Linked DNA regions of Homo sapiens. The protein of the gene in region 3 purifies or fractionates together with the protein of the main gene of each other region. This does not show direct contact. Each region holds a gene or a part of one and is shown on either strand. Other genes may lie near its edges.

Region 1 (4,797 bases), on a different chromosome or scaffold from region 3:
TTTGAAAAAAATACCCCCTCCCAAGCCCCAGATCGCCATTGGTAAACAACAGCTCTATTAATAAAGCCTTTAAGTGTCACACATGCTTTAAAAAAAAAAAAAAAAAATCCAAGTGTTGAATTTGGAGGACTTCTAATACGCTATTGAATATTTCTTTTTTCCAAAAGTTTTTTTTAATCTAGAAGGCATTTCCATTGCCTTGAGGTACAGTATGTTTCACTGTACTATGAGGAAGGTAAGTGTTCAATTTCGACTTAGACGGAAAAACTAGTTTGCTTTGCTTACCATCTTTGCTGTTTCACAGGCATTTGATGCTTTAAATCTGATGTGGAATGCTGATAGATTCACTTTTTAGAAGTCATAAGCCTTTAGGAAGTTGGAGATAACTTCATTGCTTATCTATTTTCTCCTTTGCAATCAAGCTGTTCCTTTAAAAGTGAGACACTACAGAGTTGCAAAAATTTGAAACAGTAAGAGCAAGCACCTTTGCAGCTTCATGGTTGGTTTTGGCCAAACTTTTTATTTAGTATTCTGTAGTTGTTTAACACACACTTAAATGGTCTTATTGGGGGAAGGGAAAGGGGAGGTTCTTGCAGATTCCCAAGGAAATGTCAGAAAGGCAAAATGGCCAGCATTATCCATTTGCTTTTTTGGGTTTACTGGGTGAATAGCACTTTCCTTACATAGGCATGTGATTTCAGGTTTTTCGTACTGAGAACATTGAGATTTCAGTTGGAAGACACCCTGAAATCTTATGAGTAGCATACCCCAACCACCCTCTAATAGCTAGCTTGTTTGTATAGGTAGAATGATTCATCTCTCCATTTTAGATGGCTAGATGTTTTGTGGAAGATCTTAGAATTGCCTGCCTCATTTGCTGGGAAAAATCAGATAGGAAGTGGCCTTTAGGGGATACTTTTACTTGGAAAGTTACAACACTAGTACAAGTCTTAACACATTTAACATTTGCTTGTTGAAAAGCAATGCGAAAGTCAAATAAAATTAAACATGTTTTACTTTTTTCCTCACAAGAACATAAAAATTATGGAGGGGAACTTAACAGGGAATTTAAAAAAAGTAACACAATTTTTCCTTTTAGTAGTCCTTGGGTAGTTATGATAGAATAGTTTCCACTTTTTGTTTCTTTGAACTGGGATTTTGGTCCAAAGTTTTGTTTGTTTCTAGTATCTGCTTCTGCCTCCCCCTCTATCAGATCGGCTTCCTCCACGGCCACCACCTCTTGGTGCTCCGCGGCTTGAACTGCTGTAGGAATCACGTGGAGGAGGGTACCCCCTTTCCATAGAAGGGGGAAGCCCTCTTTCTTGTCTGCCAACCCGATCACGACCACTTGAGTAGAGATCACTTCGGCTGCTTGAGTAACTGTCTCGACTTCCACCATATCCGTCACGTGAGCTGCTGTAATCATCATAGCGACTGCTTCCACCATAAGATGGCGGGGGCCCTCGTGTAGGTGGAGCACTACGTGAGTTACCTGCAGGGTCAATGGTCAGGTAATATGGCAACACTATAAATTGTATATATACAACATTTTAAATCTGAATTTACAGAATTCTTGTATTAAAAGTTTACTTTCTCAACTGGGTGGGAGGTTTTAAACTCTGCCATTGCTGGCCATAACAGGGATTTGCTCATCTGCTGAGATATGGAATTGGATTCATTTTAATGTTTGTTTGAAAAGACTGAAGACGGTGTGTATTTCAAGAGGATATTCCAGAGAGCTTGTTATTTTATAGTAGACACTCAGCCACTTTCCAGTGATAAGTTGCAATTTTGAACTGTAGAACTTGCCTTCATATTGCAATGGTAAATATTTGATCTTGTTAATAAAATTTTTAAATTGTATTTTCACTGTTGGGGGAAAACACATAAGGCTGCCAATTTAAGCAAGCAAAATCCCCTCCAAAGCAAGCAAACAGCCTCAAAAGAAACTTAGAAAAACAAAAAAAGCCCCTCACAAAACTAGGAAAAGCCCAGCTGATAAAGTTACCCCTTTAAAAGCAAGCAAACATCCCTTTAAAAGCAAGCACCACACAGCCTAATAAACTGGCTCACGAACCTAAAAACTCAAGCTGGTGATACTAAAGACCCTTAACCAGTATCTTACCATAACTCTCATATGAATCTCTGTAGGAACCTCCACTTGGATGATCTGAATAGTCACGATCACGACCATATCCATCTCTATCGCTAAATTAAAGAGAAACCTTTAAGTCCCAGAGAATCAACTTTCATTGCAACTTTTCTTACATGTAAGCCACAGAAGCAAAGTCACTTACCTATATCCTCTTGATGGATAGTCATCACGTGAACTGGAATGACCATAATCACGGTAAGTATAATCTCGTGGTGGTGGTGCATAATCTCTAGTATCACGAGAACTTGGGTAATCTCTGCTTGAATAGCTACAAAGCAAAAGTTTTGGTTTATGCTTTTGATAAGCTTTCCTTCAACCTTAATTATTAATTTAAAAAGCTGCACTTTTCTATTACCTGTCTTTAGTAGAATACCCATCATCTCTTGGGGACAAATAAACATCTCTACGAGAGGGCAGCGGTTCCCTTCGAGGTGGACCTCCATAACTATCTCTTCCACGTGATACAGGAGCTTAAGGAAAAATATCATTTTTTTAAACATAGCCAGAGAAAAAAGTTAAAACGTGAACTTACATTCAGGCTATGAAAAATAATGAGACTGACTTCAAAGATGACATTACGGAGGCTAGATCACCTAATTTTATTTTCTACAATTTCCCATTCATATTTTAAATTTTTTTCAGTGCTAATTCCATTTATCTAATCACCTAGAACACATGACTAAAAGTTTTGTTTTTTTTTTTTGAGATGGGAGTCTCGCTCTGTCACCCAGGCTGGAGTGCAGTCGCGCAATCTTGGCTCACTGCAACCTCTGCCTTCTGGGTTCAAGTGATTCTCCTGCCTCAGCCTCCCGAGTAGCTGGGATTACAGGTGCCCACCACCACGCCCAGCTAACTTTTGTATCTTTAGTAGAGACAGGGTTTCACCACGTTGGCCAGACTGGCCTCGAACTCCGGGCCTCATGATCTGCCCACCTCAGCCTCCCAAAGTGTCAAGATTACAGGCGTGAGCCACCGCACCCAGACTCCATGAATAAAGTTTTTTTTTTTTGTTTTTTTTTTTTTTTTGGAGACAGAATCTCACTCTGTTGCCACGCTGGAGGACAGTGGCATGATCTCGGTTCCCTGCAACCTCTGCCTCCCAGGTTCAAACAATTCTCCTGCCTCGGCCTCCCAAGTAGCGGGGATTACAGGAACCCGCCCTACACTCAGCTAATTTTTGTATTTTTTAGTAGAGACGGGGTTTCACCACATTGGCCAGGATGGTCTTGATCTCTTGACACCGTGATCCGTCTGCCGCGGCCTCCCAAAGTGCTAGGATTACGGGCGTGAGCCACCACGCCTGGCCAATTAAAATTTTAAGCATCATTCACCTCTCAATTCTTTGTGTTACGGTAGTAGCATAAATCATCATACATGGAACATTTACCTCTTCCTCCCATTCCACTGCTACTGCGAACTGGTCCTGAAGGTGCAGATCTCTTAGGAGGAGGACCCCCACTTCTTGGTGGTGGTCCTCTTTTTACTGGGAGTGGTCCCCTGGAAGAACTCATGTTAAAATTCATGGAATATCCACCGTCATCTGCATCAAAAATAGAAAAGAAAAATATTACTACTCACAAGAATCAAGAAAGATATAAAAGTTTTTTTTTTTTTTTGAGAGTCTCACTGTCGCCCAGGCTGGAGTGCAGTGGCTTCATCTCGGCTCACTGCAACCTCTGCCTCCTGGGTTCAAGCAATTCTCCTGCCTCAGCCTCCCGAGTAGCTGGGATTACAGGTGTGCGCCACCACACCCAGCTAATTTTTGGTGGTTTTTTTTAAGTAGAGACAGGATTTCACCATGCTGGCCAGGCTGGTCTCGAACTCCTGACCTTGTGATCCGCCTGCCTCAGCCTCCCAAAGTGCTGGGATTGCAGGTGTGAGCCACCAGGCTCGGCCACTATAAAAGTTTTCTTTGCTTCATCAAGAATATGACCATTATTGGGCCGGGCACAATGGCTCACGCCTGTAATCCCAGCACTTTGGGAGGCCAAGGCGGGCGGATCACCTGAGGTCAGGAGTTCAAGACCAGTCTAACACGGTAAAATCCTGTCTCTACTAAAAATACAAAAATCCAGGTGTGGTGGTGCATGCCCGTAATCCCAGCTACTTGGGAGGCTGAGGCAGGACAATCGCCTGAACCTGGAAGGCAGAGGTTGTGGTGAGCCAAGATCGTGCCACTGCACTTCAGCCTGGGCAACAAGTGCTAAACTCTACCCCCCCCCCCCCAAAAAAAAACCATTATTGATTTGGGTAGTCTAGTTTCACTTGTACTTGATGGAGCATGCACTGCAGTCATAGAAACTGGGGAAATAAGAACTGAAGGTAGTCTTAAAAAACTTTTTTTTTTTTTTTTTGAGAGGGAGTCTCGCTGTTCCCCCAGGCTGGAGTACAGTGGCACGATCTCAACTCACTGCAACCTCTGCCTCCCAAGTTCAAGTGATTCTTCTGCCTCAGCCTCCGTAGTAGCTGGGATTACAGGCACCTGCCACCACGCCCAGCTAACTTTAAAAAATAAAAATGATTTCATTTTCATGTCCAACACCCTGGCCTATCAATTTTTAAATGCCTTTCCTACAGAGTGAACTACTTGGACAAGAAGTAACACTGTCCACGGTTTAACACCATAATCTAAAACATGCTTC
Region 2 (6,960 bases), on a different chromosome or scaffold from region 3:
GCGCCAGCCCCTCCCTGGAGCGGGATCGCCGCAGCTCTCCTGGCCGCCTCCGGCGCCGTTAGCCCACCATCCCCCGCTAGAGGGCAGCACGGGGCGCTTTCTCCAGGCGCTCGGCGGACCTGGGTACGGGGACCTCATATCAGGCTGCAGAGAAGAGCCTTCAGTCAAAAGGATGGCATGAAAAACGGACTATACTTGTAACATCCAGCTTTTAAAACGTGGTGGAGTCAAATTTATTGCTTCCTCAGGGCTTAAAAAAACCTCTTCTGTAAGTCTGCTTTATCAAACAGAATTTTTTTATCCCCTTGGTTGCTTGAAACTGAGCTATCAAACAAATTAATCATATATTAATGTCCCTCTAAGCCGGAAACCTGGAATTACTTTGAAAAGGTAAAATATTTTTCAACTTTGGTTTTCTGATCTTTTCAGTAGTTGTTTCGATTTGAATTAAACCTCTATAAAATTAGCTTTTACAAGTGAATTTAAAAGCCACGCCATACTTTATACTAAAAGAATAAAGATTTTTATTAAGCATTGTAAGTTGCATTCAATAGCCTTCAGATACACCACACCACAATCCATCGACAGTCAATCAAACCCAACAGCAGTTCATTCTTGCACAATCCATGAGTTAGGGCAAAACTCCCTTCAACTTACAGTAAGATCCTACTTAGCTCTTGCGGGCAGGGGTTGGGGAATTACACCTCATTTCTGATCACTAATGTGATGAAGAGCATCAGAAGTATATGAAAACGATAAGAAGTGATTCTGATTTCAAAGTACATTGTTTGGAAACATTAACAAAAACATCAAAATGATAGAAGTATACCTGCTTCTACTAAATTCTTGATGGGAAAGTTCTCAAGAACAAGCAATTTGTTTCCTGCTACAGAAGGGGGGGGTGGTTTTTTTTTTTTTAAGATCAAAGGGTTTTTTTTCACAGAATTTCATATTTGCTAATATGAAGGCATAAAACAGCAACAAAGAACAATAATGCATACAGCAGTGAATACACCAGGGTAATGTTGATATTCGAAACGGCTAGATAATTTTTGGGGGGCTTTAGAATAAATGCAACAGAGGTCAATAATCACAAAATTTTAAGGTTAGAGCAAGATCAGTCAATGACTAAACAGAGTTAACATCTTTTATAGGACTATTACTGATTATTAGCATTTTTGTTTTGCAAATGGGCACATACTGTTAAGAATGGAAGAAAGGACGATAACATGCATATTAACTACACACTTTAAAAATTATGAACCATGCAGAAGTTTAGCTCAAGTAGTAGTACTAATGGTCTACATCCGATTCAAAACCACATAGTTCATTGATCACAGATGCATGGTATTAGTCACGAAAGTTTCAGAACACATTGTGTTGATTTTGAAAGGTCATTTGCATCTTCTATGATTTCAACTTTATCTCCATTTAACTTGCTTGTAAAGTATGTATGATGTATTGTATATTTAAAATCAGCAGAACGGCAATATTACTCTATAATTTTTTAGTTTTGATAGTTGCACTTTTTTTTTTTAACACAAAAGAACCACATCAACAGTGATGAAATTTAAGAAAGAAAAACTGTGGTTGTGCCTTATTTCTTTCATAATCATAAAAATCAAAGCCTTAAAGAAAGCTTCATTGTGAAACAGTAATGCAAAATCAAATATAATGGCATACATATGGTGCCAAATGCTAAAAATTATATTTTAAGCTATATATACTTAAAGACTGCCAAAATTTGTTTTCTTTATAGTTCAAGAAACACAACTAAAGGCTTTTGTCATAACCAGTTTAAACTTTATGTGTACTTCATTTTAAGTGCGGGAGTCAAATGCTCTTCATTTTCTTTCTCTTTTTTGTTTTATTGTAGCATTTTGACTACAACTGGTTAAAACTAAAAATGTGTTGTTTAAATCTCTGATATCAAAGAGGGATCTGAATTTCCAAAGTCCTCATTTTTCTCTTACGGAAAGGACAAAATGTACATAACTGCAGGCTCTCTTTCTCTCCAGATATTCCTAAATCCTTACCCTTCCAGCATCCTTCACCCTCTATAAAAAATAAGTTTACTCTTCTTTATTTAAGACAGCTGCCTCCAGAGCAGCTTCTCTGCGGCAAGCGCTGTCTGTACTTAGTGCATTTAAATGAGGATTTGTATTGCACGTTTTAGAGTCATTATTCAAGGCACTTTCAGAGTGGCTGGGGGCCCTGGCGTCACCCGTGCTCCCGTTCATCTGGGGAGCCGGCTTCTCCTCGGCCATCACTCCGTTTTCAGCCAGGGACCCGTCTGAAGACATAGCAGAGGACTTCGATTCCCCAGATTTTGACTTAAGTTCTTTGGCCACTTCTTCTGCTGAAGCAGCATAAGGAGGTCTGCCCTGTTTAAAATGAAGGACAACAAATGAGAAGGTGGTTTCTGATAAACAGAAGAGAGAGGATGCCAATTTTGGCCTAATGACACTCTCTGCAGATTCAAGAGCAGAAAATGCCCAGCTGGGTCCTTCTAACCCTGTCTTTGCTTTGACTTTTGGGCGGTAGATGCTCTACCTGTCTCAGTCAGTTCCCTCCATGGCCCCTTCCCTCAACTCCTCTGTAGTTAACACCCTGAAAATGAGGGAGATTCCCCCTTCAGGAGCTCTGTCTAATCCTTTGTATGGCACTAAATTGTTTAAAGTAACAAATGCCCCTCAATAAGTCCTCTCTAAAATTGCGACTGTTCCCACTGCCACAAAACAAACAGGGTCTCCCACATCTGCCTGTGATGTGCAGCAGCACACACACCCCATTTCTACTGGGGAAATACAGTCATTGCTAGGGAACCTTAACAAGAAATCTGCACTGATAATTGCCACGTGTTTGTGAAATAACTCTTCTGAATGGGTCTTCCCCACTCCTCTGAACAGATTTAAAAATAAGCCTCTGAAAAAAATGGTCCTTGAGACTAATCCAGCACATTTTCTGAAAGACATGGCTCTCTGTGAAGGCAGTGAAGACAGATCTTGAATTGCTCCTATCATTAGACCAGGGCTCCTCAACCTTAGCATATGATACGCTGGCTCTGTCCACTCTCCGTGATGGGGCTGTCCCACACACCGTAGGGTGTTTAGCAGCACAAACATCATGTTGTCTTCACCCGTTAAAATGTCTAGGCTTCACCCATTAAAATCCAGTGCCCACACCAAGTCTTGACAATCAACGTCTCCAAATGTCCCTTGGGGGCCAATCACCAGGGCTGAGAGCCACTGTCATAGACTGACTCGGTGCTGAAGAAAACATGGATGTTTTTCACCTTCAAACAGTCATTTTACAGACGAGAACAGGAACCTTCCAGCTCGTCATCGCATTCCCTTCCCAACAAAGATGGTGGTACCTTCCAGCATCTTCTAGGCCTCCCATTCTGAAAACCAGGGTATTTGCCTTGTTGATGACAAAATCATCAACCCAGATGGAGATGTGACCCTTGCCTAAGGAATGGCCCCCATAAACCAAGGGTCCCCACATACTCTCCTACAACATCCTCTATTTTACCTTCCAACCCTAAAGTTCAGAAATATTAACGCACCCTTCTCCATGAATCAATGCAATCGTCATTTTCTTTGAACCTTGAGACAAATAATATAAAACATAAAAATATAGCAGGACCGCTGGGCATGGTGGCTCACGCCTGTAATTCTAGCACTTTGGGAGGCCAAGGCGGGCGGATCACCTGAGGTCAGGAGTTTGAGACCAGCCTGGCCAACATGGTGAAACTGCAACTCTACTAAAACTACAAAAATTAGCCGAGTGTCGTGGCACACACCTGTAATCCCAGCTATTCGGGAGGCTGACGCAAGCGAATCGCTTGAACCCGGGAAGTGGAGGTTGCAGTGAGCGGAGATTGTGCCACGGCACTCCAGCCTGGGCAATAGAGCGAGACTCCATCTCAAAAAAAAAAAAAAAAAGAAAAAGAAAGAAAGAAAAAAAAAGAAACTACAAGTGGCTGTTCCAGCTCTGTCAGGGCTAGGCAATGCCCAAGGTAAGCCAAGCCCATCGTGTCACACCAGGCGGGAAGCTACCAGAGACACAGGGTCATGGCAAAGGGGAGAGACAACCTGAAGAGGCACTTAACAGCAAAATGATCTGGGCTCTAGGGAATGGACATTTGGTGAGCAGCTGTGTGCCAGTTACTGTGTTAGACACTTGACAGCTAAAGCATTACCCTCACAGCTCTTCTGTCTGAGCGCAGGTACTAGAAGTGCAAGCTCAGACAGGAGACATCCCTGAGGGCATTGAACTGGCACAAACATCATGTTGTCTTCTTACCTGAATTGCTGCCTGGTTTTTGTAACCTCTGCCATAGTACCTTCCACCTCTTCCAAATGTTCTAATCACTGGGGTGGAAATAACTCCTCTTGGACGCCTAAATGAATGAAAAAGGACAACAGTAAACACTTAAATCTGTTACAGACAACATTTAAAATAGTATCAAATGATTTTAAAGCCATCCAATCTTACGTTTTATGAAGCACTGAATTAACCCATTTATGCCGGAAGTTGCAATTTGTTGAATTTTTGCAGTCAGACCTTGAGCAGTAGGACATAAAGAACTCCCACATGCTTTGCGTTCCAATAATGGAACACTAGGCGTAAACAGGTTAAGTATGATCATAGGGAAGATTTATTCCAAGGAATCAATCTTATTTTTTTGGTTCATATCCAATGCATTTGCAGTCAAATGCTCTACCCCTGAGCTACATCTCCCATATCCAATGCATTTGATTTGAAAACTAATACTTTAAAAATATTAAGGCACCTGGTTAATTGAAAATTGTATGGTTAATTATTTAATAATTGTTAATTATTTAATGGTTAATTAAATAATTACATAATACTATAAATGGGATCCTATGCAAACATTATAAATGATGTTAAAGGCTGTGTGCAGTGGCTCACACCTGTAATCCCAGCACTTTGCAAGGCCGAGGTGGGTGGATTGGTTGAGCTCAGGAGTTCAAGACCAACCTGGGCAACATGGCGAAACCCTGTCACTACCAAAAATACAAAAATTAGCCAGGCATGGTGGCACATGACTGTGGTCCCAGCTACTCAGGAGGCTGAAGTGGGAGGATCGATGGAGCCCAGAAAGTCAAGGCTACACTGAACTGTGATTGTGCCACTGCACTCTAGCCTGGGTGACAGTGAGACCCCATCTTAAGATAAATAAATAAATAAAAACTAAATAATTAAATACAAATGATATTAAAGAAGAATGTATCTAATGATATAAAAATGTTCCTACTTAAACTTCCAAAAAAAAGCAAGTTAGAAGCTGTTTTCTTTACTTATACAAAAGACATTTTCGTGGCTCAGAACTTACCCTCTAGCTGGTCCTCCGACAGAAACCACCTGCAGGGGGAAAGGCCCCCGGCCCCCACGGCCCCGCCTGCTCCCAGCCCAATGGCCAACCACAGTGCCAGCTATTTCTAGTTTGCCTCCCTGAGAAGGTATAGGTTGGACTCCTGCATAAAAAATATACAAAAAGACAAAATCTTTACAATCACAGAATTAAGAATAGCAAAAAGATACAAGCAAGAAACTTCTTTTCAGTTTTGGTTTATATTTACTATGAAGCTACTTTCTCCTGTTTTGTACAATTTTTTATTATGTAGTGTATCTATGTGCACACTGTTTGACTTTAAACTACTGTGAAGAACCCATGAGAACTGAATTAGGTTACAACTGCAAATGTGCAAGGCTTTTTAGATAGAAACAGATACAATAAAGTGTCATCAGGTGCATATGGCATGCCTTCTATATTACCAAGATGGCAATCTGCAAACTCAAGAATGTTTTTCTCTTTAGGCGAATACTTCTAGGTTTACTACCTTAACTGAACATCATAGAATCAATAAATCTAGCCTGTATTTCTTACTGTGTTTTTAAATTAGAATTTCCATAAGCAGAGTCACAAATAGAATTTACTAACTTCTTTTGATTACTGCAAATTGTAAGTTTTCTGACCTAAGAAAATTCTCTAATTGCTAATTGGCAGCAAAACTTCTGTTTAAAAACAAAAAAATAAGCAAACAAAACCAGAGCCCCAAGCATCTTGTTTTCTGACAGTGAGAATGGATAATAAACAACTATCATCTTGGTGTTAGCTGTGGCAATTCAGCACTGTCCAACAGAAACCTACAACAAGCTTATATTTTTTTGTAGCCACATGAAAAATGTACAAAGAAACAGAGGAAAGAAGTTTTAAAAATGTATTTATTTAACTCAATGTATCCAAAATAATACTATTTCAACATGTAGTCAAGATTTTTTTTTTTTTAAGACAGGGTCTCGCTCTGTCACCCAGGCTGGAGTGCAGTGGCACAATCACGGCTCACTGCAGCCTTGACCTCCCAGCTCTAGCGATCCTCCCGCCTCAGCCTCCTGAGTAGCTGGGACTACAGGTGTGCACCACCATACCTGGCTAATTTTTAAAATTTTTTGTAGAGGCAGGGGTCTCACTATATTGCCCAGGCTGGTCTTGAACTCCTGCCTCAAGCAATTCTCTCTCCTTGGCCTCCCAAAATGCTGAGATTATAGGCATGAGCCACTGTGCCTGGCCCAAGATAAAAAATTGATTAGCTATTTTAGTCTGCTTCCCATTTTAAGTTTTAAAATCTGATATGTATTTTACATGTTCTAGCCAGAGCTTAAGTGCTCAACAGAGCAGTGGCCAGCAGCTACTATACTAGGCAGTGCAAATCTGAGTTCCAGACACAATTTTAAGAAACTCAGGAAGCAGGTTCCTTTTATCATTCCAGTGTAAGAATTCACTTCTTGCCCTACACTATCCATAGTACAATCTCCCCTCTCCCTCCATCTTTGATCCCAACTACAGGCCAGCTTCAGTTTCAAGGCACTAGAAGGAGCTGAAGCAAATCAAGAAGCAGAGAGGAAACATGGCTGCGAGCTGCATGAGGA
Region 3 (7,885 bases):
CTGATATCAGTAATAAATGGTAAATAGGGAAATACAAATAGGGAAGCTTTAAGTATATGCAAAGACACTAGAGAAAAAAAAAAGAACCTCAGGTAAGATGAAATTGGAAGTGCCATCAGAGCACAGATTTCTATATTTTAGAGGACTGAGGTGTTTCAAATCTCTGATAAAGGAGACAGTCTATGTAGAACATACGTAAAATAATTAACCTCCTCATGGTAGATTTCTCCCATAAATTTTTACCTTCATAGACTGAGTGTTCATAGGCTCTAGATAAGAAGCATTCTTGCAAAACTACAGCCAAGATTTTTTTCTTCTGTTTTCTAGGTTTCCCCCTTTCCGCCAGATAACATAGTTGGTCACAGAATAACTTTTACTTGGACAATCTTTTCTGGCTGAGGGCTGGTAAGATAATATTGTTGTCTTACAGATCCTCTGAAACTTTGTAAAAGCAAAGTACAATAGAAATATTGAAGCTGAATTAATTTAACTGGAAATGCTGAAAACAACCCAAGAGTGTTCCAGTTGAAGATGGCTCAAGCTGCAGCTGCTGAATGAAACTAGTCTGTTAGGGTGTGGTGGCTCACAACTGTAATGGGAGGATGAAACGGGAGGCTCACTTGAGTCCAGGAGCTTGAGACCTGCTTAGGCAACATAGTGAGACCCTGTCTCTAAGAAAAATAAAAAAAATAAGCTGGGCATGGTGGTGCACATCTGTAGTCCCAGCTACTCGAGAGGGAGGATGAGGCAAGAGGATTGCTTGAGTCTGGGAGGTGGAGGCTACAGTGAGCTGTGATCAAGAAGCCACTGCACTCTAGCCTGGGTGACAGAGTGAGATTCTGTCTCAAAAAAAGAAAAAGAAACAGAAACTAGACTGTCTAGCTAGGTACTACAGTGAAACAACCTTCTGGCTAAAACTGAATAGTCAAAAATGTGACAAAGAAAATAGTAAAGTTTATTTCTTTTTGGGAACAAGATCTTTAATTTCTCTGAGGCTAAAAGAGAGGGTACATTTCGGTGTTGGGCCTTTAATTTCTCTTATAGAAATTTATCAGGGGAAGGTGGTCCATCAATTTCAAATATGGGACAGTTTTTTGGGCTGCCCACAAGGGCTCTGTGGCCATGTTACACTCAAAATATAAAAATCCTCTCCACTAAGGTCATAATTGGACAGCGATAAAATTCATTAGTCTAGTACAGGGGTCAGCAAACCACAGCTCCATTTTTGGTATAGCCCATGATGTAATAATTGTTTTTACAGTTTTTAAGGACTGTAAAAACAGACAAGGTTATGTGACAGAGACTGTATGTGGCCTGCAAAGCCTAAAATATTTACTAGTCAGCCCTTTACAGAAAAAGTTTGCCAATTCCTGATCCTGTATGCTGTGGCCCTACAATTAATTTTGTTGCTGTCACTCTGACACACTTCAGAGGGTTGGAGAAGTGGGAGGAAGGGACTGTTTACTGTGTTGTTGGTAGAGTCCCAGGCTCCTTCTCTTTGGTGGATGGAGCAAGACCTCCAGAGACTGAAATATCTCTGAGCCCTTTATTTACATAAATCCATATTAATACCATTCTCAGTTTGGAAAACAATTTTTTAAAAAATTGAGAAAATATTTTTGTGCAAAGTACCAACAGAATAACATACACAGCAACTATTTACATGGGGCAGACGAAGGCTACAATTTAAGCAATTGCCAGATTCTCAGGATTGAGTCCTGATTTGAGATCACAGGGAGTAAGCTGTGACATCTTGGCTACTACTGATCAATAACAAGGACATTATTGAGGGCTTACCCTGTGTGAGGCACTGTGCTGACAGCACATATTATGTCAAATAACCCTCAAAATGATCCTTCCTGCCATGTGTCATTATCACAATGATTTGGCTCTTCTTAAGGCAGTTTACTTTGGTCTGCTTTCAAAGAAAAGTTGCAGTAACAGAAAGGGTCAAGAACCAAATGTATGCTATTAACACTTTCAGAAACAGAGCTCATTCAAAACAATTTTCCAAAATAACAAAATGTGAAGAATATGTAACAGTGACCGTTTTAAACACCTGCACTTATTCTTTCTGTACATGTATTCTTTCGCCTGGTACTAGGAAAACGTCCAACACCAGAGGTCCCTCCCCAGTTTAAAGTACTTCTGTCAAGTTGTTAACGCCTCATCTGTACCTGAGGAAAAGTAGAGTTTTTCCGTTTTTTATATATGGAAATCTGGGCATCTGAGAGAGGAAGGTCAGAAAAGTACTCAAAGTAGGCTAGGACGAGTTTGGCAGTGAACTCAAGAGCTGGTGGATTAGTGAGGGCGAGGGAGAGGGGAAGCCCAGCCACTGCTGTTCTGTCACCCGGTGGCCGCGGCTGCCGGGTCCGCTCTCGTGGGGCAAACACTCCGCATCCCGTCCCCTTCCCTGCAACCCGGCGCAGCTTCGTGGGAGGGGAGCCTCTCCTCAAAGCAGCCCCTGTCCCCAAGCCAGGTGCTGTCTGGTCAGCTGCCGGGAACGGATGTTCCACTCCTCCCTCACCCCGGCAGAGCAGCAGGTGAAGGGAGGTCCAAGAGGCCCACTCCTTCCCCCGAGGGCACCCCGACCCGGGCACCCGCACCTTGATGGGCTTGGTGTCGTTGGGGCCGAGGCACTGGCCATGCATCTCCTCCATGGCCCTGCAGGCCTGTGAGCTGCGGGCGAACTTGACGAAAGCAATGCCCTTGGACTCCTTGGTGTGCTTGTCCCGCACCACCCAGATGTCCTGGATGTCGCCAAAAGGCGAGAAGCGCTCCCTCAGCACCGACTCAGGTGTGTACTTGCTGATCACAAGGAAGATGCGGCTGTTGGGCGGTTCGTCCAGGCTGTCCACGCCCGGGCGGAAGCCCCCGCCGCTCGCAGAGCTGCCAGCTTCGTCCATGGTGCTCCACCCGAATGCAGGAGCCTCACTGCTCTTTGCTTCTGCGGTGTCTGCCACCGCTGCTGTCTCACACCCAAGCCTTTGCCGGCTCGGTGCTCCGCTTCCGGGAGAAAGAGGAGTCCGGCGCCAGGCGCTGTCCAGCCGCGCAGGATGAGGCCTTCCGGGGAGCGGCCTGCAGCGCCCCCTGGCGACGCGGGGGACCCTGACCCAGTCTAAGTCTCAAATCCTCAAATCCAGCTGAGCCTAGGCCCAAGTTATCAGTTGTGCAATCGTTCCCTGCAGGCAGAACAGCGCTGCCTAATGCACAGGCTTTCCCAACGCTGGCTTTACCCCACCCCTAAGGCCAAGGATTCTTTCCAGTGTTAAAGAAAAAATTATTCATGACACTCGTTAGAGATGGTACAGGAAGGCCGACTTTGACAAAGGGAGCCATGGAGATAGGTCCAGGGACAGCTGCAATGGGGTCTTGCAGTGGGAGAGAGAGATTGGACTGAATTTTGACTCTAATAAGGACAAATTTCTAACCAAGAAGCTTGGTGGGAGGTCAGTGGATGGAAAATTACAAAGAGGGAACATCAGTGTTAAGGAGGATTCTGGCTAAACCAACTTGACAGGATAGTTGCTGAAGGCAGGCCAGGGTGATTGATATCCATGGTAGTCAGACACCAAGAATGAGGATTTTCACTACACTGATTCAGCAGGATTCTTGCTCAAATTGGATTCTACAAGGACAGAAAGCCCAAGATCAAGCCTAGTCAAGCAGAGGACTCAAAGGAGCCTAACTAAGTTTTGGTCAAAGTGGAGAGTTGTCACCATCTTGGTCATAAGCTCAATAGATGATCAATATAGGACAGAGTTCAAACTATATAGCATTAGAGTTGGAAGGAAGCTTTGAGATCATTCAATTTCAGCGTCATTTGTTAGAGATGAGGAAACTGAGGCCTATAGCATAGCCAAAGTAATAGAGATAAAAAGTACGACTAAAACCAGAACTAACTTGGCCAGGCGCAGTGGCTCACGTCTGTGATCCCAGCACTTTGGGAGGCCGAGGCGGGCGGATCACGAGGTCAGGAGATCGAGACCATCCTGGCTAACACGGTGAAACCCCGTCTCTACCAAAAAAATACAAAAAAATTAGTTTGGCGTGGTGGCGGGCACCTGTAGTCCCAGCTACTCAGGAGGCTGAGGCAGGAGAATGGTGTGAACCCAGGAGGCACAGCTTGCAGTGAGCAGAGTTTGCACCACTGCACTCCAGCCTGGGGGATAGAGCGAGACTCCACCTCAAACAACAACAACAACAACAAAAAACCCAGAACTAACTCCATCTGTTGATTTACTCAACTTCTACAAGCAACCCTGGGGTTGGAGGGCAGTGAGGGTGGACTGCTCAGCTGTGGAACTAAGAGAAATCATAGAGTGCAAGCAAAGTGGGAAATGCCTTCTTGTTAACAAGCCTTAGAGGAGAGGTCAGAAACCCAGTAGAAATCCAGAAACAAGGCCTGGATTTAGCAGTGGCATTGGAATGAAGTGAAAGGAATAAACCCCTAAGTAGACCGAGGGCGGAGTTCTTCAAATGAACAAGTTCTGGATGCTAAGACCTAGGTTGCTATGAAGTCAACCAGATAAATACTTATTGTACTCCAACTGTGTGCCAGGCTCTATGCCAGGAGCTAGATATATAATGAGGAACAGGAAAGACATGTCCCGAGGGCTTGTTTTCCCCCACTGTGGAAATCTTACATGTAAATATATAATGCAAAGTAATATCAGATTATGTTACATGGTTTTGCTACTGAATTGTGTGAGCCTGGACAAGTTACTTAATACTTGCAGCTTCGGTTTCATTAACTGTAAAGTAGGAATAATATTACCTACTAAATAGGTAATACATATTATTTTGTGGTTGGATTAGTTAAGCTTGATAGCCGCCTAATAGCTACGCAGGAGCATGACTATCAAGTTTAATTAATTCACCCATTCACTTAATAAGTATTTTTGACTATCTACTATGTGTTAGGCACTGTGTTATACTGAAGGGATGTAGTATTGAACAAAATAATTACTCTTCTTCCCCCACAGAGTTAATCATTTAGCCTTATATAGTTATGCTCATATAAGATAATATATATGGAGTTCATAGTTTAGAGATCAAATGAGATAATATTTGTATAATGGTATAATTGAGATTAATTTTCTTGTTCCCTTTGACTATGGTATCCACTCCCCCACCACTGATATTATACAGTTGTGTGATGACTACTGAGAGTCAGGGATTGTGGGTTGTCACCCTGGATTTAGCACTAAGATTTTTATAATTTCTCCTTGTATTACATTCCATATCTGTAGTGAGGGTTCTGTTTACCCTGAGGCTGAACAACTCTAGGAAGTATCTTTTCTTGACTTTCCATTTCTCTTTTTCCTACCCACAACAATCAAGGTAAATGAAAATAATTTGATAGTGTGAGTTTTGTTGATGAGAGGAACTGCAAAGCAATATTATTTGCAAACCAGTGCCATCTAGTGGAAAATGTGTAATTTTCTTAAATTGTCCTGACTGGGCAATCTCTATTCTTTGTGAAATAAGACTACTGATTGGTGTCCTGAAAATTTTAGGCTGTTATTGAGAACAGTTAATTCTTTTCTCAAAAAAAGATAAAAGATTGCATAAAACAAAACCAGGAACGCAAATATTGGAAAATGCCAGAAAAGCAAAATTTCTTTACTATCCAATTATGTGAAATATGACATATTCAAGGAAAATTAGAAATTTACTTATAAATTAAAAAAAGTAAGTACATTTTCTTCATGACATGTATTTATTTTAAACAGATTTATTGAGATATAATTCTTCTTCTTATCTTATTTTTTCTTTTCTTTTTTTTTTTTTTTTTTAAGGGATTGGTGTCTCACTATGTTGCCTAGGGCAATCTCGAACTGGCCTTAAGTGATTCTCTTGCCTACGCCTCCTAAGTAGCTGGGATTACAGGTGAGACCCACCACACCCAGTGAGTTCTAATTCTTACATCATACAATTCACTCATTTGATGTATTCAATTAAATCGTTTTTAGTGCCTTCACAGCATTGTGCAAGCATCATCGCAATCAATTTTAGAACATTTCATCACTCAATGACCAAATTGTTATATTTCAAATCATAAAACCTTTGAACATGAATTACATGTAACTAAAACACCTAAAAATGTCTGAGGTTTAAAAGAATGATTTTTAGTTAGTCTGCTTAATAGAAGAAACCAGGTGCTGGGCATTTGCAGATTAAATTTTTTTCAAGGCTTTAGAACATGTAGCCTATAAAGCACTGTTATTAGAATGTGCACACATGTTTGTTTCACATGAAATTCAGATTTTTTTGAAACTTTTTCTCCCTCAAATCTTTTCTTTTTAAAAATGAGAGGTGATATTGTGACTAATTTTTGAAATGCCAGGAGCAAATAGTAAATTTTTGTCATTATTTTCCAAACTGAAGTACAATGAGGCTTACTTAGTTGGTGATATTAGTCTTCATATGTTACATCAATTAACTAAAAATATTTCGCCCTATTTGCAAATTTTTTATAGGTTTTAAAACTAAGACTTATTGGTGATCAATTAGTAGCTTTCAGATTGTTGTATATGAATATGATCCAGAGTTTCCATTTGACCCATCTGTAAGGCTACTGTCTACTGATAACGTAGGCAATTACTTAGTCTGACCTGTGGCAGGCACTCAAGAAATGGTAGTCTCCTTCTTGAGTTTGCATGCCTTTGAGTTTGAGAATAATATCTAACACCTGATTTTTTTTTTCACAGTATGCCTGCTCCTTTTGATTCAACTTGATGACATACATCTTTTAAATGTGTAGATCACAGGACAAAATTCATAGATACCACTTAGAATAGTTTCATTAAAGCATCTGGTGACTGTGGCTATTTAAATTAAAATTACTTAAAATTACCTAAAATTAAAATGAATTATAATGAAAATAATTAAAAATTCATTTCTTCAGTTGAATTAGCCAGTTTCCGACAGCTCAAGAGCTATCCACAGCTACTGGACAGCGGGCACGCAGAGCCAAGCACTGCACAGCAAGTACAAGGCTTTAAGCCTCTGCGAGAGGTGAGATCCCACGGGATCTGGGGGCCAATCAGCAGTGGGACCGGGTCCCGGCTTGCCATTGGCTGGCGATCACTGGTCGCGCGCGTCCGGCTGCGCTTGCAGCCCAGGGCGTGAGGTGCTCTTTCTGGATCGCCAGCCTCGAAGTTGAGGCGTGGACTCTGGCCAGGTGGCTGTTCCAGGTGACTGCTGGGAGCGGGGGCAAAGGGAGGAACCGCTGGCCGTTTTTAATGCCAATATTAAAAAGTGTTTCATTAGCATTTCTCTTTTTATGAAAAATAAGACATAGCAATGGTATGTACCCACCTATTCCTCTTTAAGCACTCTCAGTTGGGTAAAAAGTTGTAAGCATCTGCAGTGTTACAGATATTGTGTTCAACACAGGGTTGCCAAGTCACCCTTAAAAAGTAATTGTTGGCTTGGCATGGTGGCTTACGCCTCTAATCCCAGCATTTTGGGAAGCCGTGGCAGGCGGATCACGAGGTCAGGAGTTCAAGACCAGCCTGACCAACATGGTGAAACCCCGTCTCTACTAAAAATACAAAAATTATCCAGGCATAGTGGTGCATGCCTGTAATCCTAGCTACTCAGGAGGCTGAGGCAGGAGAATCACTTGAACCCGGGAAGCGGAGGTTGCAGTGAGCCGAGATCACACCACGGCACTCCGGCCTGGGCGACAGAGTGAGACTCCGTCTCAAAAAAAAAAAAAAAAAAGAAAAAAAAAGGAATTGTTAAACCTATAAGATTATAGATTGAATATTAATTCTTCTCCACTGCTCACCAATCTGTGACCGTAAACAAGTCACTTAATTTCTGTTTGCCTCGTTTTCTACATCTATAAAAATAGAGATGTTAATGGTATCCATCT

Evidence for each region. Proteins that work in one complex are often made in the same cells at the same time.
Region 1: the proteins of RBM45 (region 3) and RBMX purify together in Homo sapiens (affinity purification with mass spectrometry; 4 studies listed by BioGRID and IntAct, with this or other methods). This does not show direct contact.
Region 2: the proteins of RBM45 (region 3) and FAM120A purify together in Homo sapiens (co-immunoprecipitation; 3 studies listed by BioGRID and IntAct, with this or other methods). This does not show direct contact.

Annotation. Positions count from the first base shown.
Region 1 is NC_000023.11:136,872,961-136,877,757, forward strand, and holds the end of RBMX (RNA-binding motif protein, X chromosome), read right to left. Parts: intron 3,696-4,797; coding exon 3,543-3,695; intron 2,626-3,542; coding exon 2,511-2,625; intron 2,424-2,510; coding exon 2,298-2,423; intron 2,209-2,297; coding exon 2,126-2,208; intron 1,493-2,125; coding exon 1,182-1,492; 3' UTR 501-1,181; downstream 1-500.
Region 2 is NC_000009.12:93,559,653-93,566,612, reverse strand, and holds the end of FAM120A (constitutive coactivator of PPAR-gamma-like protein 1), read right to left. Parts: intron 5,505-6,960; coding exon 5,363-5,504; intron 4,406-5,362; coding exon 4,309-4,405; intron 3,609-4,308; coding exon of another isoform or gene 3,594-3,608; exon of another isoform or gene 3,050-3,593; intron 2,385-3,049; coding exon 2,073-2,384; 3' UTR 501-2,072; downstream 1-500. UniProt on the Homo sapiens protein: Component of the oxidative stress-induced survival signaling. May regulate the activation of SRC family protein kinases. May act as a scaffolding protein enabling SRC family protein kinases to phosphorylate and activate PI3-kinase.
Region 3 is NC_000002.12:178,107,568-178,115,452, reverse strand, and holds the start of RBM45 (RNA-binding protein 45), read right to left. Parts: upstream 3,017-7,885; 5' UTR 2,907-3,016; coding exon 2,607-2,906; coding exon of another isoform or gene 2,178-2,606; intron 1-2,177. UniProt on the Homo sapiens protein: RNA-binding protein with binding specificity for poly(C). May play an important role in neural development.